4 linked regions of the Homo sapiens genome follow. The protein of the gene in region 3 interacts with the protein of the main gene of each other region in a pairwise test. Each region holds a gene or a part of one and is shown on either strand. Other genes may lie near its edges.

The links.
Region 1: the proteins of TMPRSS2 (region 3) and STX8 interact in binary tests that used the Homo sapiens proteins (3 or more experiments, as listed by UniProt).
Region 2: the proteins of TMPRSS2 (region 3) and SFTPC interact in binary tests that used the Homo sapiens proteins (3 or more experiments, as listed by UniProt).
Region 4: the proteins of TMPRSS2 (region 3) and SLC38A7 interact in binary tests that used the Homo sapiens proteins (3 or more experiments, as listed by UniProt).

The regions. Positions count from the first base shown.
Region 1 is NC_000017.11:9,544,450-9,552,066, forward strand, and holds part of STX8 (syntaxin-8), read right to left. Parts: intron 834-7,617; coding exon 723-833; intron 1-722. UniProt on the Homo sapiens protein: Vesicle trafficking protein that functions in the early secretory pathway, possibly by mediating retrograde transport from cis-Golgi membranes to the ER.
Region 2 is NC_000008.11:22,157,573-22,164,991, reverse strand, and holds SFTPC (surfactant protein C), read right to left. Parts: upstream 3,195-7,419; 5' UTR 3,164-3,194; coding exon 3,122-3,163; intron 2,419-3,121; coding exon 2,260-2,418; intron 1,913-2,259; coding exon 1,790-1,912; intron 1,557-1,789; coding exon 1,446-1,556; intron 1,110-1,445; coding exon of another isoform or gene 1,092-1,109; coding exon 951-1,091; 3' UTR 933-950; exon of another isoform or gene 727-932; 3' UTR 513-726; downstream 1-512. UniProt on the Homo sapiens protein: Pulmonary surfactant associated proteins promote alveolar stability by lowering the surface tension at the air-liquid interface in the peripheral air spaces.
Region 3 is NC_000021.9:41,504,802-41,512,414, forward strand, and holds the start of TMPRSS2 (transmembrane protease serine 2), read right to left. Parts: upstream 3,358-7,613; 5' UTR 3,280-3,357; intron 3,265-3,279; exon of another isoform or gene 3,204-3,264; coding exon of another isoform or gene 3,149-3,203; intron 1-3,148. UniProt on the Homo sapiens protein: Plasma membrane-anchored serine protease that cleaves at arginine residues. Participates in proteolytic cascades of relevance for the normal physiologic function of the prostate.
Region 4 is NC_000016.10:58,681,482-58,689,750, forward strand, and holds the start of SLC38A7 (sodium-coupled neutral amino acid transporter 7), read right to left. Parts: upstream 3,290-8,269; 5' UTR 3,236-3,289; intron 2,851-3,235; exon of another isoform or gene 2,698-2,850; 5' UTR 2,474-2,697; intron 1-2,473. UniProt on the Homo sapiens protein: Symporter that selectively cotransports sodium ions and amino acids, such as L-glutamine and L-asparagine from the lysosome into the cytoplasm and may participates in mTORC1 activation. The transport activity requires an acidic lysosomal lumen.

The sequences.
Region 1 (7,617 bases), on a different chromosome or scaffold from region 3:
CTCTGTGAGCCCCGGACCAGTCTTATTAGGACTCATGTTCTCAATATGCCAATTAAAAAAAAAAACAAAAAACTGCTTTGCCCACACAGAGAAGTAGTGACCTCAGGAGTTTAGAAGGCAGTTAACAAAGCAGAAAACTCAACCAAAGAATGCCAAAGAAATGTTCTGACTTCACCCACAGTCTCCCTTAGTATGTTCCACCCAAGATGGGATTCAGCTGAACATACCTGGTTTACTAAACCCAGAAAATTAACGAAAACTGGCCGGGCGCAGTGGCTCACACCTGTAATCCCAGCACTTTGGGAGGCCAAGGCGGGCGGATCACGAGGTCAGGAGATCGAGACCATCCTGACTAATACGGTGAAACCCCATCTCTACTAAAAATACAAAAAATTAGTCGGGCACGGTGGCGGTGGGCGCCTGTAATCCCAACTACTTGGGAGGCTGAGGCAGTAGAATGGTGGAAACCTGGGAGGTGGAGCTTGCAGAGAGCCAAGATCACGCCACTGCACTCCAGCCTGGGTGACAGAGCGAGACTCTGTCTCAAACAAACAAACAAAAATTAACGAAAACTAAATTGAGTAGAAAATTATAGTCAAACACCATAAATGAATAGAATAGATTTTGATTAATTCCTAAAGTAAGCCATTCAGGAAACAGCTGTAGTATCTGCAAAGAAGTCTTCGCCCACCAAGTAATCCCTGTAAATAAAAACATCCTACCTGATTAGATCTGGTTCGGCACCCTCATTCTTAAAGGATGCCAGAAGTAGTCTCTCTCGAGTTACAAGATCATCCAAGAGGTTCTGTCTTCGGTCCCCTTCAAGCTGTGTTCTGCAGATATCTTGTTAAGGTTCAATGGTGAATAAATGACCTCGTTTTAACTATTACATTATTAAGTTAGCTCTTCAAGTCAGTTGTGGCTTTTACAGACTGTAATCACTACTACCCAGAAGGGATGCGCACCACTCTTGCGTTTTTCCTGCTCTGACCTTCACCTTCACCAGGCCGTCAGGTAAAGGACCTTGGCAGGACCATCGCAGAGGCACTTATAAACACTGACGTGGATCATGACACAAGTTTTTCATTGAGAAATATACCAGGTAAATATTACTTTCCTCCCCGTGACCAAACTTATTTACTTATTTTTGAGACAGAGTCTCGCTCTGTCGCCCAGGCTGGAGTGCAATGGCGCGATCTCGGCCCACTGCAACCTCTGCCTCCCGGGTTCAAGCAGTTCTCCTGCCTCAGCCTCCCGAGTAGCTGGGCTTACAGACGTGCACCACCACAACCGGCTAAGTTTTGTATTTTTATTAGAGACGGGTTTTTGCCATGCTGGCCAGGCTGGTCTCGAACTCATGACCTCAGGTGATCTGCCTGCCTTGGCCTCCCAAAGTGCTGGAATTACAAGGCGTGAGTCACCACGCCCAGCCCCAGTGACCAAATTTAAATGACTTCTCCTGCCAATGGTGCAACCTGGCTCAGTGATTCCTTAGGTTTTGAGTTATATGTGTGTGTCAGTGTTCCAGGGCATTTTCCTACATATTAATACCCTAAGATGCTCTGTTTAAAAAAGTGGGGGCGCTGGGGGAGAGAAGTTCTCTATATTGCTCTCTTTCTTCCATGTTAATATCTATTAACACACCTAGGATATTTATAAAGTGCTACTTTATGCAACAGATTTGCTCTATAAATTGTTACCATCAGTTCACTATTTAAATACATTGCATGATTTGTAAAGAAAATTACAAAGAGAATCATTTTAATGTGTGAATCTAGCAAACACGCTAGACTAGGAGCCCCAGAGGCAGAGTTGTAGCCCTATTCCACTATCTATGCTCTTGAACCAGTTATTTCACCTTTTGGGATCTCTCTTTCTTTATATGTAACACTAAATAGTCTCTAACATCTTTTCCACAACAATTCATAAGTGATGGTTAAAAAAAAAAAACCAAACAACCATCCTTCTGGGAAATGTAGTCTTTGGAAAGAAACCTACAATTCACCAATAGGTGGACGAGAATGCGGCGCGTGCGCATGAAGCAAAAAGGGAAGTGGCGTCTGTCAACAACCGGCGCCACTTCCCTTGGACTAAGTACAAAGTTTTATATACTAGCTTTCTTGATGCAAACTACAAAAGTGGTTTTTTTTTTTTTTTTTTTTTTTTGGAGACGGAGCCTTGTTCTGTCTACAGGCTGGAGTGCAGTGGCGCGATCTCGGCTCACTGCAACCTCCGCCACCCGGGTTCAAGCGATTCTCCTGCCTCAGCCTCCTGAGTAGCTGGGACTACAGGCACGTGCCACCACGCGCAGCTAATTTTTTGTATTTTTGGTAGAGACAGGTTTTCACCATGTTGGCCAGGATGGTCTCGATCTCTTGACCTCATGATCCGTTCACCTCAGCCTCCCAAAGTGCTGGGATTACAGGTGTGAGCCAGTGCGCCCAGACACAAGTTTTTGTTTGTTTGTTTTTAGGCTGAACTGTGTCTATGTGTGTGGTATGTTAAGAAACACAGAAGGGCTGGACGCGGTGGCTCAACGCCTGTAATCCCAGCACTCTGGGAGGCTGAAGTGGGCGGATCACAAGGTCAAGAGATGGAAACCATCCTGGCAAACACGGTAAAACCCCGTCTCTACTAAAAATATAAAAACTAGCCAGGCGTGGTGGCGTGCGCCTGTAGTCCCAGCTACTCGGGAGGCTGAGGCAGGAAAATCGCTTGAACCCGGGAGGCGGAGGTTGCAGTGAGCCGAGATCGCGCCACTGCGCTCCAGCCTGGTGAAAGAGCGAGACTCTGTCTCAAAAAAAAAAAAAAAAAAAAGAAAAAAGAAACACAGTAAAGGATATGTTTGGAAACAACTTCTGCCATAAAATGAATGAGTGGAGAAAGCTAACAAACACTTTTAAAATATATCTGGCCAGGTGTGGTGGCTTACGCCTGTAATCCCAGCAGGTCAAGGCAGGTGGATCACGAGGTCAGGAGTTCGAGACCAGCCTGACCAATATGGTGAAACCCCATCTCTACTAAAAACACAAAAATTAGCTGGGCATGGTGGCGCACAATCGCAGCTACGCAGGAGGCTGAGGCAGGAGAATCACTTGAACCCGGGAGGCGGAGGTTGCAGTGAGCCGAGACTGTGCCACTGCACTCCAGCCTGGGTGACAGAGCAAGACTCCGTCTCAAAAAAAAAAAAGAAAAAAGAAAAGAAAAGAAAAGAAATACACACTAAAACAAGATACCACTTCCACCTATCAGATTAGGAAACTGAGAAGACAGTTTTGGAAAGGGACAAGGAACCAGACACTCTCATACATTCTTTCCTTTTCTTTTCTTTTCTTTTTTTTTTTTTTGTTTTGTTTTGTTAAGATGGAGTCTTGCTCTATCATCCCAGGCTGAAATGCAGTGTTGCAACCTTGGCTCACTGCAACCTCCACTACCTGGGTTCAAGCAATTCTCCTCTCAGCTCCCCAAGTAGCAGGGATTACAGGTGTCCACCACCACACCCAGCTAATTTTTGTGGGTTTTTTTGAGAGACAGGATTTCACCATGTTGGCCAGGCTGGTCTCAAACTCCTAATCTAAAGTGACCCTCCTGCCTCCCAAAGTGCTGGGATTACAAGCATGAGCCACTTCACCTGACCTTATACATTCTTTCTTTATTATTATTATTATTTTTTGAGACAGTGTCTCCCTCTGTCGCCCAGCCTGGAGTGCAGTGGCATGATCTTGGCTCACTGCAACCTCCAGCTCCAGAGTTTAAGCAATTCTCCTGCCTCAGCCTCCCAAGTAGCTGGGATTACATGCACATGCCACCATGCCCAGCTAATTTTTGTGTTTTCAGTAGAGATGGGGTTTCACCATGTTGTCCAGGCTGGTCTCGAACTCCTGACCTCAAGTGATCCACCCACCTCGGCCTCCCAAAGTGCTGGGATTACAGGCATGAGCCACCATACCCGGCCACCTCATACATTCTTGATAGGAATGCAAACAGGTTCAACCAACTGCTAGACTGCCTTCTAAATACCTAACAAAATATAAAAGGTACAGTCTTTCAACAGACATTTCTTCCTCAGATACAGTCCTACAAGGACTTAGAAGCAAGGATGTCCACTGAACCATTATTTATAATAGCCACATTGGAAATATCAATAAGTAACTAGTGTATGTAAACAATGGAATGTTTTGCAGCCTTAAAAAAAGAATAGGAAAGCTGTTTAGGGGGCTGATAATGATAATTAACATTTTTGAGCACTTACTAAGTGTTTACATGAATTATTTGACATGGAATAATCTACAAAATATAACATTAAACCAAAGGAGGGGAAAAAAACAGCAGCAGCAAGGAGCTAAACAGTGAGTAGTGTGCTCCCACTTTGTTAAAAAAAAATCCTAACTATATATGTGTGTATATACACACAGAAAATTTCTGATATATAAACATTGCCTCTAAGGAAGGACAACTGAGGATTAAGGGTATAAGAGAGACTGATGTTTCACTGAATATTGTTTCCTAATGTTTGTCTCTATCATCTGCTAATTAATAAAAACACAAGCTTCAGAACCATATGTATAATATAATCCCTTTATAGTCAAAGGAATTTTATGTTTACATATGCATATATTTCAAGCCTAGAAAAGTCTGAGATACTAGCTACCAACCATTAACACTTAACTATAAAGAATGAGATGAGACAGGATAGAATAAGGAAGAGAAAGAGGAGTCATTGGTAATAACTAATGAGAAATGTATCAGTAGAAAGTATAATATTTTTTGTAATAAAAACAATAAAGGTACATTTTAAAATCAGCAGATACTAGTTACAGATTTAAACTTACGTCAAGAAGGAGCTAACAAAGAACATCAGTTTCAGAAACAGTAAAACTTGATGACTATGTTTTGTAGATGAGTAACCAAAGAACAGAAACCCACACAGTTGATGCTAGAAGAGGCCTTAAAGATCCCAGTTCTCTTGTTTTGCTGACCAGAAATTAAGGGTGAGCATGGCTAAGTCACTTGCCTGGGTTAACAGCCATGCTAGGTGACAGCTCTTTCAACCCTAGCTCATGGCTTTTCCACCAAACATTCTGCAGACTTCTCCACCTTGAGATGCTGACTTAACTTTGCCACTTCTTAGAATCCTGATAAAAACAATACTGGGAGTACGAATTCAGAATATTCCCAGAGACTCTGTAAATCTGGAAAACAATCCAATTAGGAACATGCTGCCTCTTTGTTTTATATTTTAATCTACGGAGAGAACAGAGCATAAGGAGATGGGGAGGAGGGAGATGGAATGAGAATAAATTGATTAATGAACCATCTGCATAGCACCCTTGCTATGTAAGGGTTGTTATTAGTAAGAGGTCAAAGGATCATCCAGGAAACAATCTATACAGCATGTATGTGGACAGGTGCGTAGCAGTTGGGTAAAGTAGGGTAGTGGGGAAACAGTGTGCCTGAGTGATGCTAAGGACAAGTAGAAAGTAGGACACACAGGCCAAGCGCGGTGGCTCAAGCCTGTAATCCCAGCACTTTGGAAGGCTGAGGCAGGCGGATCATGAGGTCAGGAGTTCGAGACCAGCCTGGACAACACGGTGAAACCCCATCTGTACTAAAAAAATACAAAAATTAGCTGGGTGTGGTGGCACACGCCTGTAGTCCCAGCTACTCAGGAGGCTGAGGCAGGAGAATCGCTGGAACCCGGGAGGCAGAGGTTGCAGTGAGCCAAGATCGTGCCACTGCACTCCAGCCTGGGCAACAAAGTGAGACTCCATCTCAAAAAAAAAAAAAAGTAGTACAGCACACAGTCAGTGGCCAGTGCTGGGGAACCTCCTCTTCCACCAACCTGGTGAATAGCCAAGGAAGAAGATAAGAGAACAGACAGATAAAGAAAAGGAAGAGAAGAGCTAACTATCATAGTACTTTGTCCTTGGCTATGCTGATTGTACATGTAATTATAGCCAATTCATGGATATGTAAGGTTGTAAATAAAACTGGATCCCCTGTAGTCCCAGCTACTCGGGAGGCTAAGGCAGGAGAATGGCGTGAACCCGGGAGGTGGAGCTTGCAGTGAGCCAAGATCGTGCCACTGCACTCGAGCCTGGGTGACACAGCGAGACTCCATCTCAAAAAATAAATAAATAAAAATAAAAATAAAACTGGATCCTGATTTCATATTACTGATACCTACTACCAGCATGCATAAGTCCAGCTTCTCTGCTGTAGCCTGGTGAGCATTTGAACCACAGATGGAGCGGGGTAAATATGCAACTGGATCCACAGGTCACCCAATCCCACTCCAGCTCCTGGATTTTCTCTTATATTTGGTAGAAGGCTTAAGAATTTAGGCTGGGCACAGTCGCTCACACCTGTAATCCCAGCACTTTGGGATGTTGAGGTGGGTGAATCACCTGAGGTCAGGAGTTTGAGACCAGCCTGGCCAACATGGCAAAACCCCATCTCTACCAAAAACACAAAAATTAGCCAGGTGTAGTGGTGCACACCTGTAATCCCAGGTACTTGGGAGGCTGGGGTAGGAGAATCGCTTGAACCTGTGAGGCGGTGGTTGCAGTGAGCTGAGATCGCACCATTGTGCTCCAGACTGGGCAACAAGAGTGAAACTCCGTCTCAAAAAAAAATAGAATTTAGGTAAGCCTTATTTTGTGAAAGAGCTGCTCTGGCGAAGGAAGAAGTTTGCAGATAATTAATTCTCCATGCCAAAAAAGAAGAACTGCAAGGGAACAGTTTAAGGTTCTAGAGGTCAAAAGACTTTTCTGGCTTTCTTTTTTTAAGTCAACAAACTCTAATAAATATTTATGATGTACCAGGCCAAGTCCTTACCTTCCTCAAAGCACTGATCACATTTTGCAAGTACTATTTTAATACCATCATTGTTTGTGAGTTTTGACATAACCATCATGCATGATTAAAAACTCCACAAAGAAAGGATGACCTGTAAATTCTCAATGGTAGCTGAAATCTTTACAATAATGATAAAATAATCAATAGCAGCTAATCCTCAAGGAGGACTTAGTATATGTGAAGCACCCTGTATGCATATAATCTCATCCTTACACAACAATCCTTTACGCCAGGTGGACTTCTAGCATCCCATTCCACAAATGAGGCACAAAGAGGTTAAGTAACTTCCCCAGGGGTGTTGGTAACCACCTTTTATTCAACACCCACCATTATGGGGGGCTAGTCCTGTGAAGAAAAAAGATTTTCTTCAACTTGTACAATAACCTGGCAAAGTATGATTATTCCTACATTACAGATAATGAAACTAAGGTCCAGAAAAGCTGAACTGCTGTTTGGCCTTGGTAAGTGGCAGAGCTGGTCTTCAATCTCAGTTCTGTCTGCTTTCAGAGCCGATGTTGTTCCCACGATACCAATGGCACCTAGACATTCAGGTTTCGTGGACCAGTAATATGTCCAAAAAAACTAGGGGGGGGTGTAACTTATATAGAATTACCAATTATACATTTTGCCAGGTATGGATGTTCAAGAAAAAAAAAAAGAAACAAAACTATCTACTTTTACTATCATGGTGAAAAAGCAAGGAGATTTTAACACCAAAAACTAGAAAGAACCATGTAACAGTTCTGTATAAATCAGAAA
Region 2 (7,419 bases), on a different chromosome or scaffold from region 3:
GGGCTCGGGCCGCCCGGGCCGCGGGCCGCGGGCCGCGAGGCCGGGGCTGGAGCTCGGGCCCCGGGGTGCCGGGAGGGCTGTCCCTCCTGAAGTGCCCTCTAGCGGCGGCCTCCCCCGCGGGCGCGCGGCCGAGCCCCCGCCCCGCCGCGGGACACGCTGTCAGGTCCTCGCGCCGCCCCTGCCCCGCGCCCCCGCCTCGGGTCGGTCTCTCCGCCCGCGTCTCCCTATCTCCCCTTCTTGGACCCTCGCTCTCTCGCGTCTCGCTCTCTGCGCTCTGTCTCTCTCGCTGTCTTGGTGTCTCTCCCTCCTCCGGAGACGCCGCTGGAGGGCGCCGAAAGCCCGTGGATGGCTCCCTGCGAGCCCCTCTCCCCCGCCGAGGTGGACCCAGTGCCCCAGCGCCCTGGGACAGAGGGCGAATGGCAAACCCCACTTTGCTCTCCCAAGGCCCTTCCCTTCTTGGCCGGCCCCCGCCAGGGCAGGACTGCGCCCTGCAGGAAGACAGAAGCAGACCCTTTGCTTTTCAATCAGGCTGCTTTATTCTGTTGTGGCAGGAGTTCCCGGGCCCCTGGGCGCCACCTCTGCCCACTCCCATCCTCTCCCCAAGCTCCCATTTCTCCAGGGCTTGTCCCTGCGGTGTGGGCAGAAGCAGCTTCTTGCCCGTCTGCAAAAGCTGCAAAAGACCCTTTGCCCGGGGCGTTTCCTTTCCCGTTGGGGCTTCCACTGACCCTGTGAAGCAAAGGAATGTTGAGGATGGACAGAGAGAATCAGGGGAGTGGGAAGTACCGGTCTGTGAGCTTCCCCTCCCCCGAGTTGCCTGGATGACCCCGCTTCAGTGGACGCCCCAGCGCCTGGTCAGCGCGAGCGCTCCTCCACAGCCCGGGCAGGTGGCCCGAGCGCTCCTCCGCTGCTGATCAGGGGCCCTGGGATCACACCTGCTCACCGGAGGCGTCCTAGATGTAGTAGAGCGGCACCTCGCCACACAGGGTGCTCACGGCCATGCCCAGGAAGGCCGGGTCCCCTCCGGAGGGTGCTGAGCCTGCATCTCGCCCCTCTGCCTGGCCCAGCTTAGACGTAGGCACTGCGGGCTTGGCCTGCAGAGAGCATTCCATCTGGAATGTAGGAAGTGAGTTTCTATCCCATGTGCAGCCCTTATTGTGGGACTTCAGGTATATCAGGCAATCTCTCTGAGCCTCAGTTTTCTCATCAGTAAAGAGGGGCTGTGCTAGAGTCAGAAGCCACCAGGTAGTGAGTGGACTCAGCTGAGCCCAGCAGCTTGGCAGTGGGGTGGGAAGGAAAGGAGTCGTGCAGGGGAATAGGAGAGGGGCAGTCAGCTGGCAGCCAATGAGGAACAGTGCTTTACAGGTGACAAATAGCCACCATTCGGACACTCCTCCCAGCAGCCCTGGGAGGGAGACAGCCCACTCTTTTCACCCACACACACACACCTGGAAGTTGTGGACTTTTCTAGTGAGAGCCTCAAGACTGGGGATGCTCTCTGGAGCTATCTTCATGATGTAGCAGCAGGTGCCAGGGGCTGGCTTGTAGGCGATCAGCAGCTAGGCACAGAATGCTGGAGATCATTCGGGGGTCCCTGCCCTGCTCTCTCCCTGACCCAGGTCCTTAGCCACCTCCCTCTAGGTTGGGCACGGGAGTCATACTAGAATCTGGGGCTCAGGCAAAAAAGGTCTGGAGGAGAGGGAGAGATGGATGTGGATGAAGTGGCCCAGCTGGGTGGCTCTAGCAGAGCCTTGTCATTGGTCCCAGGGTCAGGAGGTCTGGGCATACCCACCTGCTGGTAGTCATACACCACGAGGCCAGTGGAGCCGATGGAGAAGGTGGCAGTGGTAACCAGGTGCTCACTCAGGGCCAGGCGTTGCTGGGCTTCCGGCGCCCCAATGCTCATCTCCAGAACCTGGGGAAAGGGCATGGAGCCACCTGGTCTTCCCCTTTCCTACTCAGCCAGTGGTACCCATCCCCATACTCAGGCCTCTGTACTCAAATGCGCTTCCCTCTTTCCCAAGAGTTCAGGGAGGCTGAGTGGAACCAGGTGCTGGAGGGAGCTGGCTGTCCTGCTGCGGGGCAGGGGCCTTGTGGAAAAGCCTGAGCTGGGTTGCTGCCTGGTTCGTGCCTCTTTCCTTCTAGCTGTGCCCCTTGCCTCCTCCCCTCCACTCCCCTTGGACAGTTTCCTATCGCCCATCCCACCTAGCCCCGCTGTCTGGCATGTCCTGTGCCCACTGCTGTGCATCCCACACCTCTCACCATCTCCGTGTGTTTCTGGCTCATGTGGAGACCCATGAGCAGGGCTCCCACAATCACCACGACGATGAGGACCACCACCACCACCACGATAAGAAGGCGTTTCAGGTGCACTGGGCAGCAGGGAATGCCAAATCGGCCCCGGGGAGCTGCGGAGTAGTCCTGACACGGTGGGGCAGGCAAGGAGACAGGCATGAGGTCATGAGGCTGTCCCCTCTTCTCCCTATACAAGCTGAACACCCTCCCACGGCTGCCTAGGGCTGGACAGCCGATGCGATGGATGGACAGGGAAGGGCTGAGGAGATCAGAGAAGGCTTCTTGGAGGAGGTGGCCTGGATTCTAACAAACCCATAGACACATAGAAGCTTAGAAGCAGGGTCTAGTTTTGAGGGACCCAAGAGAGCCTGCTTCACCTGTCTCTCCCTGCTGCTTCCCCCAGCCATGGTCAGCCCCTCTCTCTCCCCAAGTGATCACCTCCATGCGGTGATACAGAGTCTCCCTCCTTCCTGGAATGCCTTCCTCCTTCTCCACCGGGCGAGCTCCTCCTTATTCTGGCTCCAGCTCGTATGTGGTTTTTCTCTGAGAAGTGTCCCCTGACTTCTGAAGTTTCTCATGGCTTCTGACTCAGGGCTGTCTACGGACAGCCCTTTCTACGGACCCCTATAGTGGCTCTTGGCCCACAAACAGCTCCCCAAGGGTCCCTGGCTTAGTGGTCTTGGTGTCCCCATCCTGACTTATCACAGTCCTAGGTTAGTTGAGTGAATGGATCTGGATAAGGAAACAGGCCAGGGAGGATAGAGGAGGCAGGGCCCATCACACACATGTGCGCGCGCACACATACATACACACACGCAACCACACTCACCGGCGGGCTCTCCATCAGGACCTCTTTGCTGCCCACATCCATCTTGCTGCAGGTGCTATGCTCTCCTCTCCTCCTCTCCCAGGTGTGACCAGGGTCTTATATGTGTCCGTAGGGAGAGGGGACAGAGGTGAAGGACCAAGCCCCCTGTGTGCCAGCCAAGCCCTTGGCTTTGAAGCCTGTTTGTTCCTGGCCCTCCAGAACCGAAGCCCAGATAAGCCCCCTGTGAGAGCCCCCAAGGGCCCTTGGCCCTGGCACATGAGTCCTCTTGGCCCCAGCAAGAGCAAACCTGGGTGAGTTGAGCAAACTTGCCCTCGGGCCATCTGCACTTCTCACCATGGGTGTCTTCCTGGCGTGCCTGCCTTCCTTGCTGGCACCTGCCCCTGCTGCCCTGTGGCTTTCCTTTTTCTTCTACCACCCTGAACCTTTCAGGTGGCCAAGGGTCTGACCATCATATTTCCCAGCAGAATTTCTAGATACATAGGGATGCGCTCCAGGAAGAGGGTTCTGGAGGCAGCACCTGTAGACTCTGAGAGGACTCTGCCCAAGGCAGGAGGTGCTTTGACATCAGTTTTCGGGGTTTCATAAATGTGCATTTCCCTGCAAGGACCAGTTCCAACTTCAAGTACTCTTTCCCTTACCTTGCCTCCTCCCACATATCTGGTACCAACCTCAAACTTGCCCCCAGTGATTATTTTCCTAATTCTGGAAACTCTGTCCCCACTGGTGGCAAGCTCTTACTCATGTGCAGTGCTTCCTTCTTTGCTCTGGGCTTGTCTGTCAATTGCAGGCTGTGCTGATGGCAGATTCCAGGTCTGACACTGCTTTCTTCTGCCCGGACAGCCCTGAACAGGGCTGGCTCTGGTCACTGGTGGGCTCCCAGTCTCCCCATCCTCGAATCAGCTCACTCACCCTGTGGTCTACACTCTACCCCTCTAGACTCCCCTTTCTGCATCCTCTGATCCTAAATTTGCCCTGAGAATAATACTCACCCAAATACGATCAGCTTTGAGGACTGTCTCCTTCTCTTTTCTCTGTCTTTCCTAGTGCCTTCCCAAAGCCATCTCTATGTATTTACGAGGTCAAATCTGCCAATGACTTTGGGCTGGCTCACCCTTTCTCTCAGGTTCCCTTTCACTCCTTGGGCCAGGTGGTCTCTAAAGTCCCTTCACCTCTAAACTCAGGTGACTGTGGCAGAGTCCAGGCCTGGGCTCGCTCCCTTAACCTCCTATCCTTTTGTTTTGTTTTGTTTTGTTTTGTTGTGAGACAGGGTCTCACTTTATCACCCAGGCTGGCATGCAGTAGCGAGATCACTGCTCACTGCAGCGTTGACCTCCTGGACTCCGGTGATCCTCACACCTCAGCATCCCAAGTAGCTGGGACTACCAGTGCATGCCATTGTGCCCAGCTAATTTTTGCTTGTTTTATAGAGATGAGTTTTCACCATGTTGCCCAGGCTGGTCTCGAACTCCTGGGCTCAAGTGATCTCGGCCTCCTAAAGTGCTAGGATTACAGGTGTGAGCCACCATGCCCAACCAGCCTCCTGTCCTTTAACATGCCACCCCAGTTCCTGTCCCCTGCCCCAGCCCCCTCCCACCTGGGCCCTGCCCTTCGGTCATGAGCTGGCAGGTTCCCCTGTCCCCCTCTCCATCTGGAGGGCCTTCAGCCCCAAGGTTGCATAACAGCATGGCATCTGAACTGAGAGCCCCTGAGAAGCGCAGGGAGGAAGAAAGGGAGGGAAGTGTTTGCTCCCACCACCCTCCTCACCCCCTTGCTGCCCCTTTAAATATTTGCCTAAGACTCCAGCAGCCAGAGAGTGTCCTAGGACAGTGAAAGGAGGGGAGGGGTGCCGGGAGGAGGGGGAGCCCACAGAAGCATCCTCTCAGCTCGGCCTCAGCTGTGTGCAGGTGCCAGATGTGGGAGACAGCTCGCCTGCAGTGCCCACCCCTGCCCTCCCCCAGGGCCCTTACTCCCGCCCCCATCATCCTGGCAACATTGGGATTGATCGGCTGACTCACGAGTACTGGGCCTGAGCCAGGTGGGCAGCTGGCCAGCGGGAGAGCCAAGCACTGCAGGCATCTCGGGGTCCCTGTGGGCATCTCGGGGGGCCATGTTGTTCTCACGTGGGACTTGTTCTTAGCAGGCACTGTGGGTGGGGTTTGCCGCCATCGCTGGGTGCTGGGAGAGGGATCTCTTTCTTTGAAAAAGCCTCTGCTCTTTCTGGTCCTTGGTCTCCCCTGCCTGTTGCCCTTAGGCTGTAGCTGTCACAAGCTCTGTGGCGGCTGCTGCTGCTGCTTCTTCTCCTTCTTTTTTTAAACCCATTTTTGCTTGCTTGAGGGCTGAGGGAGGGTGCCTGCCTCCTGGAGTGCTCACACCAACCAAGTGAAGGTCTTGGGTTCCTTGGAGAAGGAGACACAGAAGGACCTTTAGCTGGGTGTGCCAAATTTCCCCCTCCCCCTACCAGCCCTGTCTGCAGCCTTCTCACTTTTTGGCCTGTACTTAAGCCGTTTCTCCCTCTGTGAAAGCCCACCTCCAATCCCTCTCCACTTCTCCGGTTTTATTTTTATTTTATTTATTTAATTATTTAGAGACAGGGTCTCACTCTGTTACCCAAGCTGCAGTGCAGTGGTGCAATCACAGCTTCATAGCTCACTGCAGCGTTGATCTCCTGGCCTCGTGTGATCCTCCTACCTTGGCCTTCCAAAGTGCTGAGATTACAGGCGTGAACAGTGCATCTGACCTTCCACCTCTCTGAATGCCACCCACCCAAACAGGCCAAGAGCCAATGGCACCTGCTCTGCGACCTCACTCCAGTTCATGGTGCCCTCTGAAATCCTCAGCCTCTCTGTGGCACCTTCACCTGCCATTCAGCACACATGAATGTTCCCATGAGTTACATGGGCGCTTTTTGTTGCTCTATCTTCCAGCCCAATTGCGGGCCCTGGGAAAGAAAGGAGCACGCTTCCTGCGGGCTTCTTTGAACCTGCCACTGGGCAGGAAGCATGCAAACAGCCAACACTTAATGATAGTCAATGATGAGACCAATACCAACAGCGGTCAATAGTCCATGCCTTCAGTATGTGGAGGTCTCAGTGCTTCCACTGGCCAGCTCTGGGACCCAGCGTGAGTCGTTCTGCTTTGTTAGGCATTAGTATGTTCATCTGTGAGATGGGTCAGGTACTAGCTGTCCACCTCACTATGCTATTATGAGGACCTAATAGCATCATGGGTGTGACATCCAGTCATCCTCATTAGCATCATCTACTTCATCCTCTAGGGGACCTCTCACTAGCTAAGAACACAGCCCAGACTCACCCTCTTTGTCTGTTTCTGGGTTGACTCCCTCTGAGAGCCCTGAGTGATGGACAGCCCCACGGTGGCCACCCCTTCTGTGTGGGCCTCCCCGTTTCCTCCTCCAGCCCCTCAGCTGCAGGGGTGGGGACAAGATTCACTTTGCTCTTTGTGTACTGGGCAGAGCCGTGCCAGGGACGGGTGGGGACAGTTGCCCAGCTGCCCCAGCCACCTCCCTACCCTCACTGCTTCCCTCCCCCCAAGCTGGCATGGGGAGGGCGGCTAAATGTGTGGCAGCAAGGAGACATCAAAGGGCAGGGGCATCCCTGGCTGGGAGAACACAACTTAAGCTCAGACCAGAGAATCCCCTGCTGGCAGAGTCTGGGGACAGCTGGGGAAGCATCTTAAAGCCAGTGGTCTTCGTTCCCTGGACTGGTGTGCAAAAAGCACAAGACTAGAAGCCCAGGCAGCTGACAGCCAGGCTCCCCTTGCCCCGTGCCTATGAGCTCTTAGGACAGTCATCCTCCGCCACAGGGGAGCTAACGTGGTAGAGAGCAGCAGTCTTCAAGCTTTTTGTTTTCAGGACCCCTTAACACTCTCAAAAAGTATTGAGGACCCCCAAGAGCTTTTGTTTATGTGGGATATGTCTGTTGATATTTACTGAGAAATTACATTTTTATTTACATGTGAATTTAAAATATCAGTAATAAACCCAATATAGGTTATGACATAAATCACATTTTTAATGGAAAAACGATTTTACAAAGCAAAATTATTTTACAAAGCAAAATAAAATTAGAGAGAAAGTGTCATTTCTTTACAGTTTTGGAAATCTTTTAAATTTGGAGCTTCATAGAAGTGAAAAGGGCAAATCATGTCTTAACAATATTAGGAAAATTGTTTTTACCTCAGAGACTTCCTGAAAGGTTCTCAAGGACCCCCGGGCTCCCAGGGCTACACTTGGAAGAGCCGTGCATGGAAGGACGACCGTGAACCTTGAAGCTGGGCAG
Region 3 (7,613 bases):
GCCCCACAAAGGCTGACTCCATACAGGCCTCAGCTCTCAGGTACATAATGCTCCTGCACCCCAATCCTGAGGCCACGCAGTGCATCCCATATTGGAGGATCCCCTGGCAGGTGTCCTGGAAAGTAAGGAGGGGCGGGGAAGAGTAGCAAAGGCCTGGTGACTGTGGGATGAGGGACACTCAGGGAGTGCAGAGCAGGAGGGACCAGAGAGCAGAAATGCACCTGGGCCTTCAATGCTCCTGGGCTCTCTGGTTCCCCACAGGGAGCTCTCCCTGCCCTCACTCTCCCCACTAGCAAGGCCACTTTCCAAGTCTTCAGCAACCAAAACTGAACAAGCACTCCATTGACCATTCACCTTTCCTTTCTACCTCAATGTCCAAGGCTTAGATCTGATCAGTGCTCCCCAAACCCAGAATTTTCAAGAGGGCTTAGAAAAATAAATAAATAAATAAGATGCCTGGGCCCCATTCTCAGAGTCTGATGTAATAATTGGGACCAAGGCAATGATCCCATATTATTACGAAGATCCCCTAGGGAATCTTGCCGCAGATTCAGGTGGAAAAGGGTAAGAGTTATCAGCCAGACTTTTGGTTTACATTTCCTGGTAGGGGGACAACACACTCGGATGATGATGATCGTGGTGGTGGTGGTTACTGGCATAAGGTACTGCACGCATCTACCTTTTCACCTACAGGACATTTGCACCAGCGTCTTGTCACTCAATGCCCCCATGGCCTAGGAGGTCAGCCCTCCGCAGGCCCCCTTTCAGAGTTCCAGGCACTCTGGCCATGTCATACTGCTAGAGGGAGCAGCACGGAGCCCAGGTAGGGCTGTGGGCAGGGGCTGGGCTCTTTCAGGTCGGGGAGAACCAGAGCCTGGCCCAGGAACAAGCCCTTTTCAATCAGGATTCCGGGCGCCTTGTTTCCAGCTTCCTTCCCTCCTTTCCTCCACTTGCTGGTAACATTCCAACATCCTGGAGGGAGAACCCAGGGAAGGATCAAAAGGAATCCGTACTGTGCCGATTGTCACTAAAGCCCCTTCTAAGCATCCTGTGTCTCCAACTCAGAGCCCGACACTGGAAGCACTGACCTATGGAGCCAGACAGGCCATGTTTATCCCCAGTTCTGCCCCTTACAGGTTACAAGATCTTGGACAAGCTTCCCAACCTCTCTTCCCCAGTTTCCTTACAATTGAGTTAAGTACATTATAAAGGGTTTGCAATGATGCCTGGCTGAAAAAAGTGCCACATCAATGTCTGTGGTTATTATTATAATGCCAGTGCAGCCAAATATACTCCTACAATTAAGGTGACTTGAGTTCAAGATAGAGTGGCCAACGGTGCCAGGCAGGCCAGCACCTAGCAACCTGGGAGGCCCTGCCTGAGGCTCCAGCAACAGCACAAGCTTGTTGTTAGAAGGTTGTCCTTGGCTGGTGGGAATAAGGGAAGCTGCTGGGGACCAAACAAATGTCCAAGCAGAGAACAAAAGCCCAGCCAGCTCACCAGCTGATAATTAAAAATAACCAGAGGCCGAGGTGTAGATGGCCATCTCCAGGCAGAGGTCTCAGCCCGTAGGTTGCACCCCGAACTCTCCAGCCTAGTGTGTCCTTACCCGAGGGTGTTGCTAGGTTTCATTCTAACCTCACCTGTCCAGTAGTTCTGTAGCGGAGCAGGGCAGGTCCTACTTCTTCAAAAGCACTCAGTAAAGGTGGGGAAGTCCTGAGCAACCTCCAGTGACTTTCTGGGGGAGCTCCCGGTTACCTAGCCCACCAGGTCCTCCCTTCACAGCAGCAGCTCAGGAGCCAGGACTGACTTAGCTACTTGCGTCCCCAAGGCCCTTTGCGCTGGTAAACTCTCCCTGCCACACTCCCAACCCCCATCCTTCCTTCAGGGGAGGCTGGCTGCATCCCCACTTCCTGGAGTACCTTCCCAGATCTCCTGGGACAGGTCAACAAACTTAGTCTCACTTTAGGTTTTCCAAATGCCTTGTAACTGGGCTGCGTAGCCTTTGTAATTTTCCATGATTCGGGAGGTTCTCGCGGCTGGGAGCTCCGTGAGGTCAGGCATTGCCTTGGGCGCGATGCGCTCATCTTTCCCGCGGGACCACTGCACAGGTTCGCACGGAGGGAAGGGCTGCGCAGCCTCGAAGGCGAGCCCTGGGTGCTCCCTGCCCACAGGGCTCACCTCGGGCCGCCGTGCTATCCTTTCCTTCCCAAACAAGCCACCAGGATTCCTCGTGATTAGGGCTGCCACCAGGGCGTTCTGAACAGGATTCAGGGCCACCGCGCTGTGCTCTACGGCGGAGCGGGCGAAGGCCCTCCTCTGCCACAAGCGCTCAGGGCTCTCGGCGCACAAACTTTCTGGACATGGGGCAGTTTTTCAGCTGGACCCGTGCTCGAGCAGAGCGCCCACTGCCAGACTGGAGCACTTGACCACTCAGGGTGCCACTGTGCCGAGCCGGGCAGGACAGGATGAGGTGGACCGAAGCGCCCAGGTGCCCCGCCTTCCCCCCAACCCGGCACGGAGCGCAAGCGGAGGAGCCAGACCGGCTCCTCCCGGGCGGGTTCCTGCCGGTGCCGGGTGTCCAGGAGGCCCCGGCCCTGATCGCCGCCAGCGGGTCGCCGCAACGGGGCCTGAGTCGCGAGCAGTCCCTCCCCGAGACTGACTGGCCGTTCGCACCTCGCCCGGGGGCCCTCCAGCAGCCTGGCCCAGCGGTCCCCGCCGCGCCGGCCGTATCGTTCCCGGCATCTCAGCGAGTTTCCAGTTTCTCCCTACCTCAGTAGGGAACCAAGAAGCAGAAGGAGTTCAGGTAACACTGCGGGACTGCAGAGATTTCCCCCAAACAAAGAAGCCAACCGACAGCACTCCCAGTCCTCCTCCCCAAAGAGAAAAGGCGCACCGGTGCTCCCAGGCGGGGGCCGTGGAGGGCAGGCGGACTAGGAGCCAGCTTTGGGGACCCCGGGGGACTCTCTTCCACCAACTGGCTAGGGACTCGCAGGACCACCTGCCCCAACCTCGCGATGCCAAGCCAACAGGGGCGGCGAGGGCTCTCGGCCGTGCGCAAGGGGTCCCAGGCGCCCAGCACTCTCCCAGCACCCCGGGAGGCGCCCTGCCCGGCTGGCCCCAGCGCTCGACCCTCGGGCGCACTCACCTGCCGCGCCGCGCTCCTCACACCCGCTTTCACCTCCGGGCGGGGCAGGGGGCATCGGCGGGTCCCAGGCGCCCAGGTTCCCCTCCCCAGCCCGGACCCCGAGCCGGGACCCTGGTACCGGCGCCGCTCACCTGCCGCGCTCCAGGCGGCGCTCCCCGCCCCTCGCCCTCCGCCTCCGCCTCCGCCTCCTGCTTAGCTCGCGCCTACTCGGCCCGGCCCGCCCTGGCTCTCGCTTTAATCTCAGGAGGCGGTGTCCCAGGGTCCAGGGCGACACCCCCAAGCGGGTCGCGGGTCACCCTGGGCGGGCGGGGGCGGGGGCGGCGGGAGGAGGCGTTTCCCAAGGGAAGTCCGGGACGGGTTCCCTGCCTGGCTCAACCCCGGCTGCGGAGGGACCCATAAGGGACTCTGGGGCGCTTCCCGGGCCCGGCCACAGCGGCCAACCTGCCCCTCTCCGGTCCGCGGCGCAGCGCTGCCCGAGGGCTCGAGTTTGGGTTAAGGAAGGGGATTCTGGGGAGCGCTCCTGGAGTCCTGGGTGAGCCCCCGGAGCTGCTACCTCACGAGCTCCTGTAGGCGGCCGGCCCCGTCTTGGCCTCCGGGGAACCCACTGTAGCCTCTGGGCAAGGACCCAGGGTAGGCCTTGGGGACTGCTGGCCCAAGCACGAGTGGCGGGGACACAGCGCCGGACGCCCAAGACCCTCCCCAGTCCGCCTAGGCTGGCATTTCTTGGCCCCCACCAGCGTCCGGTGGAAAGTGCTCCCCCGGATGGTCCCAGGTCTCTCGGCACCACCGGCCAGGGCGGGAGTGAGGAAGTGGTGGGACACACCTCAGCCAGGAAGACGTGGCTGTTCCCGGGCACTTGAGAGGTTCTTTCTAATGTTTGCAATTGTGGGGGCTCAGAATTCACCAGAATTTAATAGGACCGTAGACCAGAATTCATCACCCCAAGTAGGACTGGAGGAGACCAGAATCTGCTACCCCAACATAGTCCTCTTTGGCACATTGATGATTTGGAACTGGTTATGTTGAGGAACTGCAGACACCAGAGTACCTCTGAGAAAATGCCCTTTTGTAAAGGAAATTTGCACCTATAAAGGAAATGTTTGTTAGTCAGCAGATCTGTACCAGGAAGAGAGCTGTTCCCGGACAACTTTTATCACCTGGGAAACTTTTATCTGCCTCACACGGCAACCTGCGTTCACCAGACACCTCCTCTCCTCACGCTCCCCTCACTCCTCCACCGCTCCCCAGAAGCCTCAAACCCCCATTTCTTTCTGTCACTCAGAGTGACAGATAAGCCTCAATCATCGGGCTGCTGCACCTTTTTTTTTTCGTGTGTTTTTTTTTCCCCCAGAAGGGGTCTCACTCTGTTGCCCAGGTTGGAGTGCAGTGGCTCAATCATGGCTCATGGCAGCTTCAACCTCCCAGGGCACAAGTAATCCTCCCACCTCAGCCTCCCGAGTAGCTGGGACTAGAGGCGTGTGCCACCACGCCCAGCTAATTTAATTTTTTGTAGAGATGGGGGTCTCCCTATGTTGCCCAGACTGGTCTCCAATCTGGGCTCAAGCGATCCACCTGCCTTGGCCTCCCAAAGTGCTGGGATTACAGGTGTGAGCCCTCGCACTGGACCCCTCACTCACCTGGCCTGTTCTTTAAGTCTCATATTCTTGTGGGATTCCCATCTGTGAGTACATACATTAAAACAGCTTTTCTCCTGTTCATCTATTTGATGCCAATTTAATTTGTAGACTAGCTGAACGAACTAGAAGGGTAGAGGGGAAGCATGTTTTCTCCTCCCCTGCATAATATACAAATCAACATGATTTGCTTTAAAATGAGGTGGAAGCAGAAAAAAGCCCCATTCAGTCCCATCCCAGGCTGCCTTGGCTCACTGCTCCCTTCCTGGGAAGCTCTCCCGGAAGCCTCCTGTGGGGCAGGACTTTCCTAGTAAACCCTTCCCTCTCACTCCCTCCTTTGGCACCTTTTGTGGTCTGCTGGTGGCACCCACAACAGGGATTGTCCCCAATATGCCCCAGCCCTCCCCATCCCCCACACTGCCCTGCGCTCTGCCCCAGTGGGAAACCCTCAAAGACCCTCTCCAGCACATAGGGCAGGTGCAGTTGTCTTTCAGCGGCAACTCACTTATTTCTGTCTTGACAGTGTGTTTGGTGCCTACTAATTCCACCCAGAAACCAGGGAGTAAGTGCTGCCGCAGACTCAGGCCTCTTGGAGTGGTTGTTCATTCACCATTTATTTTTCCTTTTATATTAATAATCAGGGTTCTCCAGAGAAACAGAAACAATAGGAGAAATACAAATATATACACACATATACATATGCACACACATGTATATACACACATCTATATTTCTATATATTATTTATAAATATTATAAATATCTTATATATTATAAATACATATAAATATATACATAAACATGTATTTTATATGCATAATATAATACAGATATGATATATATTATACACAGCTTATATGTAATAAATATTATTTATAATATATATAAAGATTTACTATAAGAAATTGACTCATACAATTATGGAGGGTGAGAAGCTCTACAATCTGCCATCTACAGACTGGAGACCCAGGAAAGCTGGTGTTGTAGCTTTCAAAGTCCTGAGAGCCAGAGAACTAGAGAGCAGATGGAACAGATTCCAGTCCAGGTCTGAAGGCCTGAGAACCAGGAGTGCTGAGGGCAGGAGAGGATCAAAGTCCAGCTCACACAGTCAGGCAGAGAGCAAATTCAACCTTCCTCCCCTTTTCTGTTCTATTCAGGCTCTCAACCGATTGCCCAAATTGAAGGCAATCAGCATTACACAGTCTTTTCAAACATTAATCTCTTCCAAAAACACCCTCACACGCAGACACCCAGAAATAATGTTTAACCAGTTACCTGGGCATCCCATGACCAAGTCAGCTTGACACATAAAATTAACCATGGCTGGATGCAGTGGCTCCCACCTGTAATCCCACCATTTAGAAGGCTGAAGTGGGAGGATCTCTTGAGCCCAGGAGTTTGAGACTAGCCTGGACACCATAGCAAGATCCTGCCTCTACAAAAAGTTTATTAAAAATTAGCCAAGTGTGGTGGTGCGCACCCGTAGCCCAAGGTACTTGGGAGGCTAAAGTGAGAGGATCAGTTGAGCCCAGGAGTTTGAGGCTGCAGTGAGCTTTGATTGTGCCACTGTACTCCAGCTTGTATGACAGAATGTGACCTTAGTTTTATCTAAGCATGAATATATATGCCACCATAAGTTGACCCCTTGTCGACTTCACACCTACACATCTCCTTACACCATACTTTATCTCTAAAGACAATAGCAAAGTAATAATTTTGCCTAATGTGATAAAACTCTTCTGCATACAACCAAAAAATGCACTAAGCCCTTCCCCAGAAGTGGATGTAAAATTCTCCAGTGTTTACACTTCTCCTTGGTATTCCATAACTTAAATACCATAATGTAAAATTAACAATACTTAATACAATGATATAAAGTCAATATGCCTTAAGTTATGTAATAAAGGAATATGAGAGAAAAGACAACAGAGATATATACTGTATATACAAATATGTGCACAAATGTATTTAGAAAAAAATAATGAGAAAATACTCGTGACAATCTAATGCTTTATAACAGGTTGCATGGGCAATAGCTGGTGTTTGTAACTGTCTTCTTCCACTACCCACTCTGCGTTCCCTCTGCCTTCGGGAAGCATGACAGCTGGTCATGGTTCTTAACCTGATGGAGTGATACAAACCTTCATTCCTCAAGGGTCTGGGCCATTAATAGCCCTGCCTGGATTGTGTTGTAGTTTTCCATTGACCTTAATCACAAGCATGGTAAAACTAAAAGATGCCCTAAGGAATCGTTGTATTCCAGACACACTCTTCCTTACCTTCCTGGTGGAGTAGAAGTAGTCTATAGCTTCTCCTTGGTAGTCCAGATGGGTCTCCCCAGCCAATGCATAACTCTCTCTTTGCCTTTTGATTCAGAGGCATGTGGAGCTCAGCGTGGCCAGGTGGCAGTCGTAAATTCTAGTTTAATTGAATCATTGTTGTGTCTCCTGGTGGCAGCATTCCTCCCTCCGGAACTAAGACCTCTAGGTCAGCAGAGCGTAAAGTCACAGAAACAGCAAGCGAAAATTTTGCTAGTGGGCCACTTGGAGTAATAGTGCGTGGTGCCACTCCCATTTCCACCCCTTGATTCCTGGACCAGTGAATCCTGGCTATGGGAGAAACAGCACCGCATATTGGATGCTGATTTGGAGCATACACAGCTTTCTGGAGAACCTTGCCCCAGCCTGCAGAGCATTGTCCCCTAGCCAGCACTGTAACTGCATCTTCAAAAGGCGATTCCACTATTCTATCAAGTCAGCTGCTTCATGGGGGTGGGGAATATGGGAAGATCAGTCGATTCCATGAGCATAAGCCCATTGCCATGCTTCTTT
Region 4 (8,269 bases), on a different chromosome or scaffold from region 3:
AAAAAGGATCTTCAGTGTTCTCAAGGTTCAGCTCATAGCCTGAGACCCGCAGAGAAATGATGGTCCTAAAGCATCAAGTCCACCCCCAGATCAAGAGCAGCCCTGGGCAGGGCTGTGATCTGGGTCTCCGAGTAGGTTCTGCCGTCAGAATGCTGACTCCTCCGCTGCCTATCTGTGTGACCCTGGGCAAGTCACTTCGCCCCTTTAGGCCTTTACATCATATGTTCCTGTGGGTCGTGTGTTAATATCAGTAAGGGTTTAAGACTCAATAAATGGTCACTGCTGCTGTTATTTCTGCAGATGCCCCTTCCCATGTTGCCCACCACCACCATGCCTGAGACTCTCCAGCCCTAAGCAAGCAGGGAGCAGAACACTGATCAAAACCAGAGCCTGGGCCGGGTGTGGTGGCTCACATCTGTAATTCCAGCACTTTGAGAGGTCGAGGTGGGCAGATCACCTGGGGTCAGGAGTTTGAGACCAGCCTGGCCAACATGGTGAAACCCCATCTCTACTAAAAATACAAAAATTAGCCAGGTGTGGTGGTGCACCCCTGTAATCCCAGCTGTGCAGGAGGCTGAGGCAGGAGAATCGCCCGAAATTAGGAGACAGAGTTTGCAGTGAGCCCAGATCACGCCACTGCACTCCAGTCTGGGCGACAGAGTGAGACTCTATCTCAAAACAAACAAACAAACAAAACTCAAACCACAGCCTGGTGCTATTGGCCAGGTAACAATGGGCACAGAGGCCCTGGGATAGCTAATGGGAGAAAGAGCAGGAAGAAGGCCAGATTTCAAGGGCAGGAACTAAGGGGGCAGGGAGGAGCCAGGGCAGTCTTCCCCAGAGGCTGCTATTAGCTGGTTACCACCCAGGCTGGCGAAATCTGCCAAAGACTCCTTCTCCTAGAGTCTCCTCATTCCTGAGTCCCGATTTCACGGTACTCATACAAAACTCCATTTTAATCTCTACTCCCTCCCTGGTTTAGTCTTTATTTATTTAGAGACAGGGTATCACTCTGTTGCCCAGGCTGGAGTGCAGTGGCGCAATCAGAGCTCACTGCAGCCTCAATCTACCAGGCTCAAGCAATCCTCCCACCTCAACTTCCCGAGTACCTGGGACTACAGGTGTGTGCCACCACAGCCAGCTAACTTTTAAAATTTTTTTTTTTTTTGAGACGGAGTCTTGCTTTGTCACCCAGGCTGGAGTGCAATGGCACAATCTCAGCTCACTGCAACCTCTGCCTCCCGGGTTCAAGAGACTTTCCTGCCTCAGCCTCCTGAGTAGCTGGGATTACAGGTGCCCGCCACCATGCCTGGCTAATTTTTGTATTTTTAGTAGAGATGGGGTTTTGCCATGTTGGCCAGGCTGGTCTTGAACTCCTGACCTTGTGATCCCCCTTGGCCTCCCAAAGTGCTAGGATTACAGGCGTGAGCCACCACGCCTGGCCAACTTTTTAAATTTTTTGTTCCTGTGGGGAACAAAATTGGCCTTTCAAAATTCAGGCCAATTCTCAACTCTTCTCCCATGTGACTTCTCCCACGTGACAAGCCCCCCACGCCTGTCATGTTTAAATTTTCTGTAGAGATGAGGAGGTCTCACTATGTTGCCCAGGCTGGTCTTGAACTCCTGGGCTCAAGCAATCCTGCTGCCTCGGCCTCCCAAAGTGCTGGGATTACAGGCGTGAGCCACAGCCCCCAGCCTGGTTTAGTCTTTATAGCCCAGAGGGAAAAAAAGGGAACTGAGCATATTCAGCCATAATGACTGCCCTAACCATTGGGCCACCCTCTCTGATGCCTTCAGCCCACTGGGGGTTTAAAATGACTAACAAGACCCCTTGGACTACTTCCCATTGCTCCTCCTGATGATGGACAAACAAAGCTGGGGACCATCCACTCATGAGAGGGAAAGGGTGAAAGTTCATGTGCTCTCAGCCATCTGTTATCAAGCATGGAACCAAGGGACATGGCACCAGAGGAAACATTCCTCTGCTGGCTCGAAACCCAGAAAGATCTGTCAGATGTCACAGGGCTTACACATCCTCTTACACATCCTGTCACCCAACCAGCAACTCAGCAAAATCAAAGCAGTGAGCAGCGAAGGCAGAGTCTTGGGACTCCCAGGCTTCCAGTGTAGCTAGAGAAAGAACCCTGCAAAGTGACCACTGCCAGAGCTGTGACCATCTCCTCCCCGCTGCTCACGTCACAGAGACAGAGGTCTACAGAGTGATTCGTCCAAGGTCACAAGGCTTGGTGCGGCTTCCTGACTCTCCAACCAAAATGTTTCCCTTGGGCACCCCTGCCCGAGTCCTGCACCATCCTCCAGCCTCTCCTGCCACCCACATGAGAGTGCAGGCTGGGGTCCTCGTGGAACTCAGAAGCTGGGGGTCCCACCTCTTGCAGATTCTCTGCCTTGGTTAAGACCTCTCGGCACCCCCACTGCTCACTGGCAAATTACTCAGCTCATTGTTGCACCTTACCTGCTCTTTCTCCCTGATGGGCTGTGCCAGAGGCGGTTGCTCCTTCTCCCCAAAGGTCTGGGATCTGATTCTCCTCACTTCCCTTTCTGGACCCAATTTCTTCTTTCTCAAGACTTTGCCTAAAATTTGCTGTCAGCAGAGGGAAGAGTTTGGGCTACTTCTGTGCTGGCTTCAGCAGAGCTGGAGGAAACTGAGCGGCTCTCACGCTTACTCATGAAATGGAGCTTCAGGACAGATAGGAAAACAGGCCCAGGAGGGAGAGGTTAGACTAAGGTCACAGTGGGTAGCTGGCAGAGCCAGAATAGAAGCCTGATGCCCACATGCTCAGGCCAGCGATGTAGGCCCCTCAGATCCCAACTGGAGTGTGCTCCCAGTCCAGCCTGGGGTTGGAGCCCTGAGATAGAAAGGGTGGGCTGCTTTGTGAGGTGAGGCTTTGTGAGGTGAGCCAGGGCGCACCCGGGCCAGGAGGCCGGGGCGGGGCGATTCCCAGGCCTGGAGCGAGAAGGGTGGGCTACTGTGGGGTAACCTGGGGAGGAGCTCCGGGACCCGATCCCGGCCTAGGACTGGGTGGAGACCCTCTGGCTGGGTAAAGGCGCGGCAGAGCTGGCGCAACAGAGGGACGGGCGTGGGGCGAGGACGCCAGGATCTGGACCCCTGCAGGGAAAGGGTCTGAGCTTTTCCGCGGTGGCGGGGACTGAGGGGCTCCACAGACCTCGGGGATCTAACACTTCCACCCTCCAGAGCCTGTCTCCGGCCACCTACCTTGGGGGATTCTTTCCCGAGCCGGCTGCGGAGACACGTGAGCATGCATCACATGACGCCCGCTCGGGCGGCCGCGGGACACGCTGGGAGTTGTAGTTTCCGCAAATGTGAAGCTTGGACAACACCAGCTCCCTGAATCCTCAGCCCGACAGCACTGCCCTGAGCCAGCCTCGCGTCCAGCCAGCTCGTGTTTATCCTCTTACTTTTAGTCTTGGCCTCTTGACCAAATCAAACACTGCTCCTTCCTCCAAGGAAGAGCATTAGGAGGTCTGGCCTCTTTGCCAGTCCCGGTGGCGGTGGGCCAAAGCTGTTTGGCCTCATTATCCTCCCGGTCTCTGTCCTTGCCTTCACGCCCATGGCCAGAGCACTGGAGTTTTTTTTTAATCAGTAATGTGGGGGACCTGGAGCCACGGTCTTTCCTGCAAGGGAGTGGGCTGGGGGCATGGTTACGACCCCATCGGTTTAGACTCTAGAACAGTTTTTGAGGGATTGTAGGTGCTCAGTAAATATTTGTTGAATGACGAAATGGGCATCCAGTCCTGGTTCTGTTCTTGGCTGTGTGTCACTCATAAATTGTCACGTAATCTCCAGCATCCCAATAGCCTCATCTCTGTTTTGTGGATATGCTCTCCACTGCACTTACCTCTCCATGCATCAGAGGTCCTCACCGATGAGGACACACTGGGAATCCTTAGAAACCCAAATCACACCTTTTTTTTTTTTTTTTTTTTTTTTTTTTTTGAGACAGAGTCTCACTCTGTCTCCCCGGCTGGGGTGCAGTGGCACGATCTTTGCTCACTGCAACCTCTGCCTCCCGGGTTCATGTGATTCTCCTGCCTCAGCCTCCCGAGTACCTGGGATTACAGGCATGCACCACCACTCCCAGCTAATTTTTGTATTTTTAGTAGAGATGGGGTTTCGCCATGTTGGCCAGGTTGGTCTCAAACTCCTGACCTCAAGTGATCCACCCACCTCAGCCTCCCAAAGTGCTGGGATTACAGGCATGAGCCACCGTGCCTGGCCTCCAAAAAGTTTATATAAATTGAATCATACTGGTTGAGTGCGGTGGCTCACACCTGTAATCCCAGCACTTTGGGAGGCCAAGGCGGGCTGATCACTTGAGGTCAGGAGTTCGAGACCAGCCTGGCCAACATGGCGAAGTCCTGTCTCTATTAAAAATACAAAAATTAGCTGGGCATGGTGGTGCACGCCAGTAGTCCCAGCTACTCGGGAGCCTGAGGCAGGAGAATCACTTGAACCCGGGGGGCGGAGGTGGCGGTGAGCAGAGATCGTGCCACTGCACTCCAGCCTGGGAGACAGAGTGAGACTCTGTCTCAAAAAAAAAAAAAAAAATAGAATCATACTGTCTTAATCAGTTAAGGCCGCTATAACAGAGTATCATAGACTGGGTGGTTTAAACGACAGAGATTTATTTTTCACCGTCCTGGAAGCTGTCAAGACTGAGGTCAGAATGCCAGCAGAGTCAAGTTCTGGGGAGGACCATCTTCATAGTTTTCAGATGGCCATCTTCCTGCTGTGTCCTCACATTGCGGAAAGCAGAGAGGGAAAGTAAACTCTCTCTTATTTTTATTTATTTTATTATTATTATTATTTTTAGAGACACGGTCTCTGTTGCCCAGGCTGGAGGGCAGTGGCGCAATCACAGCTCACTGCAGTCGCCATCTCCCAGGCTCCACTAGTCCTCCCGCTTCAGCCTCCCAAATAGTTGAGACTACAGGCATGCGTGCCATCATGCCTAGCTAACTTTTCATTTTTTATAGAGACAAGGTCTTCCTATGTTGCCCAGAATGGCCTCAAACTCCTGGGCTCAAGTGAACCTCCTGTCTCAGTCTCCCCAAGTGCTTGGATTACAGGCATGAGCCACCATGCCTGGTCTTGTTTCTTCTTATAAGTGAACTAATCCTGCGGCTGGGTGTGGTGGCTCACGCCTGTAATTCCAGCACTTTGGGAGGCCGAGGCAGGTAGATCATGAGGTCAGGAGTTCAAGACCAGCCTGACCAACATGGTGAAACCCCATCTCTACTAAAAATACAAAACAAATTAGCTGGGTGTGGTGGCATGCGCCTGTAATCCAGCTACTCAGGAGGCTGAGGCAGGAGAATTGCTTGAACCCAGGAGGCAGAGGTTTCAGTGAGCCGAGATCGTGCCACTGCATTCCAGCCTGGGTGACAGAGTAAGACTCTGTCTCAAAAAAAAAAAAAATAGTACTAATCCCATCATGAGGGCTTTAATTACCTAATTACCTCCCAAAGGCACGTCTCCAAATACTATCACGTTGGGGATTAGGGTTTCCACATATCAGTTTGGGATGAACACAAACATTCAGTTCATAGACCACACAGTCTGTAATTTTCTAAGATTGCCTTTTTTTTTTTAACTCAGTAAAATTCCCTAGAAGAGATTCATCTAAGCTATATACGTCAACACAGATAGGTTTTATTGCTGAGTAGTATTCAGTGGTATGTATGTACCACAGTTTACTTACCCATCACTCTTTGAAGGACATTTGAATTGTCTGCCTTTTTTTTTTTAACATAGCTTTATTGAGGCCAGGCATGGTGGCTCATGCCTGTAATCCCAGTACTTTGGGAGGCTGAGGCAGGCAGATCATTTGAGGTCAGGAGTTCGAGACCAGTCTGGCCAACATGGTGAAACTCTTGTCTCTACTAAAAATACAAAAATTAGCTGGGTGTGGTGGTGCATGTCTGTAATCCCTGTTACTCAGGAGGCTGAGTCACGAGAATCACTTGAACCTGGGAGGTGGAGGCTGCAGTGAGCCGAGATTGCGCCACTGCACTCCAACTTGGGCAACAGAGTGAGACTCTGCCTTGGAAAAAAAAATTTAAAAAATAAGAATAGTTTTGTTGAGATATTCGTATGCCATAAAATCCACCCTTTGAAAGAGTCCAATAAGGTGCATTTTAGTTTCTTCAGAGTTGTGCAATGATGACCACTATCTAATTTCAGAATATTGTGATCACCCTCCCCTACTAAAATCCTGAACCCATTAGCAGTCACTTCCCATCTCCCCCTCCACCAAGCCCCTGGCAACTCTGAATCTACTCTTTGCTTCTGTGGGTTTGCCTATTCTTGACCTTTCATATAAATTGAGTCACACAATATGTGACCTGTTCTGTCTGCTTCTTTCACTGAGCATACTGTTTTCAGTGCTCATCCTAGTTGGAACATGAACCAGTATTTCATTCATTTTTATTGCTGAATAATGTTCTGTTGTATGGCTATACCACATGTAGTGTGGCAGGTCCCCCATCAGGTTACTTGGAGGTGTATATCCACTGCTTGAATCCTGAATGCTGGGTGGTGAGCCAAGGCCATGGTGCCCAGCCTAGGAGCAGATATTCCTGAGAACTCAAACATCCTGGAGAGGATCTGAGAATCTACCAAGGAAAACAGTCCCACTGCATACACGCAGTAGGCAAAGAGCTAGAAAATTAGCTTAAAAATGGCTTAGAGATGGGAGGTGGCGCGGATCTCTAGCACTGTCCTGCTGCTGTCAAGGAGTGTCCCGTATGTAAGTCCTCAAACTCATCTACTCGCCAAGCTGGACTTGCCTGAGTCATTCTCTGGTCTCTCAACTGCCTCCAAGTTTGGGGGAAGGTTTTTCGTACAATTCAGTGTTTTTCTCATTACACCACATTTTTTTATCTGTTCAGTAGTTGATATTTGTGTTATTTTTTCTTTTTGGCTACTGTGAATAATGGTGCTGTGAACATTCATGTACAAGGTTGTTTTATTTGAGATGGAATTTCGCTCTTTTTGCCCAGGTTGGAGTGCAATGGCATGATCTTGGCTCACTGTAACCTCTGCCTCCTGGGTTCAAGCGATTCTCCTGCCTCAGCCTCCCGAGTAGCTGGGATTACAGGTGCCCACCCCCACGCCCAACTAATTTTGTATTTTTAGTAGAAATGGGGTTTCATCATGTTGGCCAGGCTGGTATCGAGCTCCTGACCTTGGGTGATCCGCCTACCTCGGCCTCCCTCATGGACTAGTTTTTGTGTGGACATATGTTTTCATTTCTCTTGGGTATACATGTAGAAGTGGAATTGATGGATCAGATGGTAACTCTATGTTTAACCTTTTAAAAATTATTTTATTGGCCGGGTGCGGTGGCTCACGCCTGTAATCCCAGCACTTTGGGAGGCTGAGGCGGGTGGATCACGATGTCAGGGGATCTAGACCATCCTGGCTAACACGGTGAAACCCTGTCTCTACTAAAAATACAAAAAAATTAGCCAGGTGTGGTGGCATGCGCCTGTAGTCCCAGCTAGTCGGGAGGCTGAGGTAGGAGAACTGCTTGAACCTGGGAGGTGGAGGTTGCAGTAAGCCGAGATTGCACCACTGCACCCTAGCCTGGGTGACAGAGCAAGACTCTGTCTCAGAAAAAAAAAGTATTTTGTTATTATTATTATTATCATTTTAGAGACAGGGCCTTGCTCTGTTGCCCAGGCTGCTGCTCAGCACAAAATCCTGGGCTCAAGTGATCCTCCCACCTCAGTCTCCCAAGTAGCCAGGACTGCAGATGTGTGCCACCATGTCCAGCTAATTTTTAAATTTTTTGCAAAGACAGGGTCTTGCTGTGTTGTCCAGGCTAGTCTTGAATTCCTGGGCTCAGGCAATCCTTCCACCTCAGCCTCCCAAAGTGCTAGGAATACAGGTGTGAGACACTGTGCTACTCCTACAACTGTTTTGTATATTGATCTTACACCCTACAATTCTGTTGAACTTATTTACTAGCTCTAATAGTTTTATTAGTGGAATCTTCAACATAAGATTATAAAACCTGTAAATAGAGATAATTTTATATCTTCCTTTCTAATCTGGATTCCTTTTATTTTCTAGCCTTGACTGTACCAGAACCTCCAGTACAATGTTGAATGAAGTGATGAGAGTGGACATCCTTGTTTTGTTCCTTGTTTCAGGAGACAATCATTCAGCGGTTCATTATTAAGTATGATGTTGCCTGTGGATTATTTGTAGATGCCTTTTATCAGG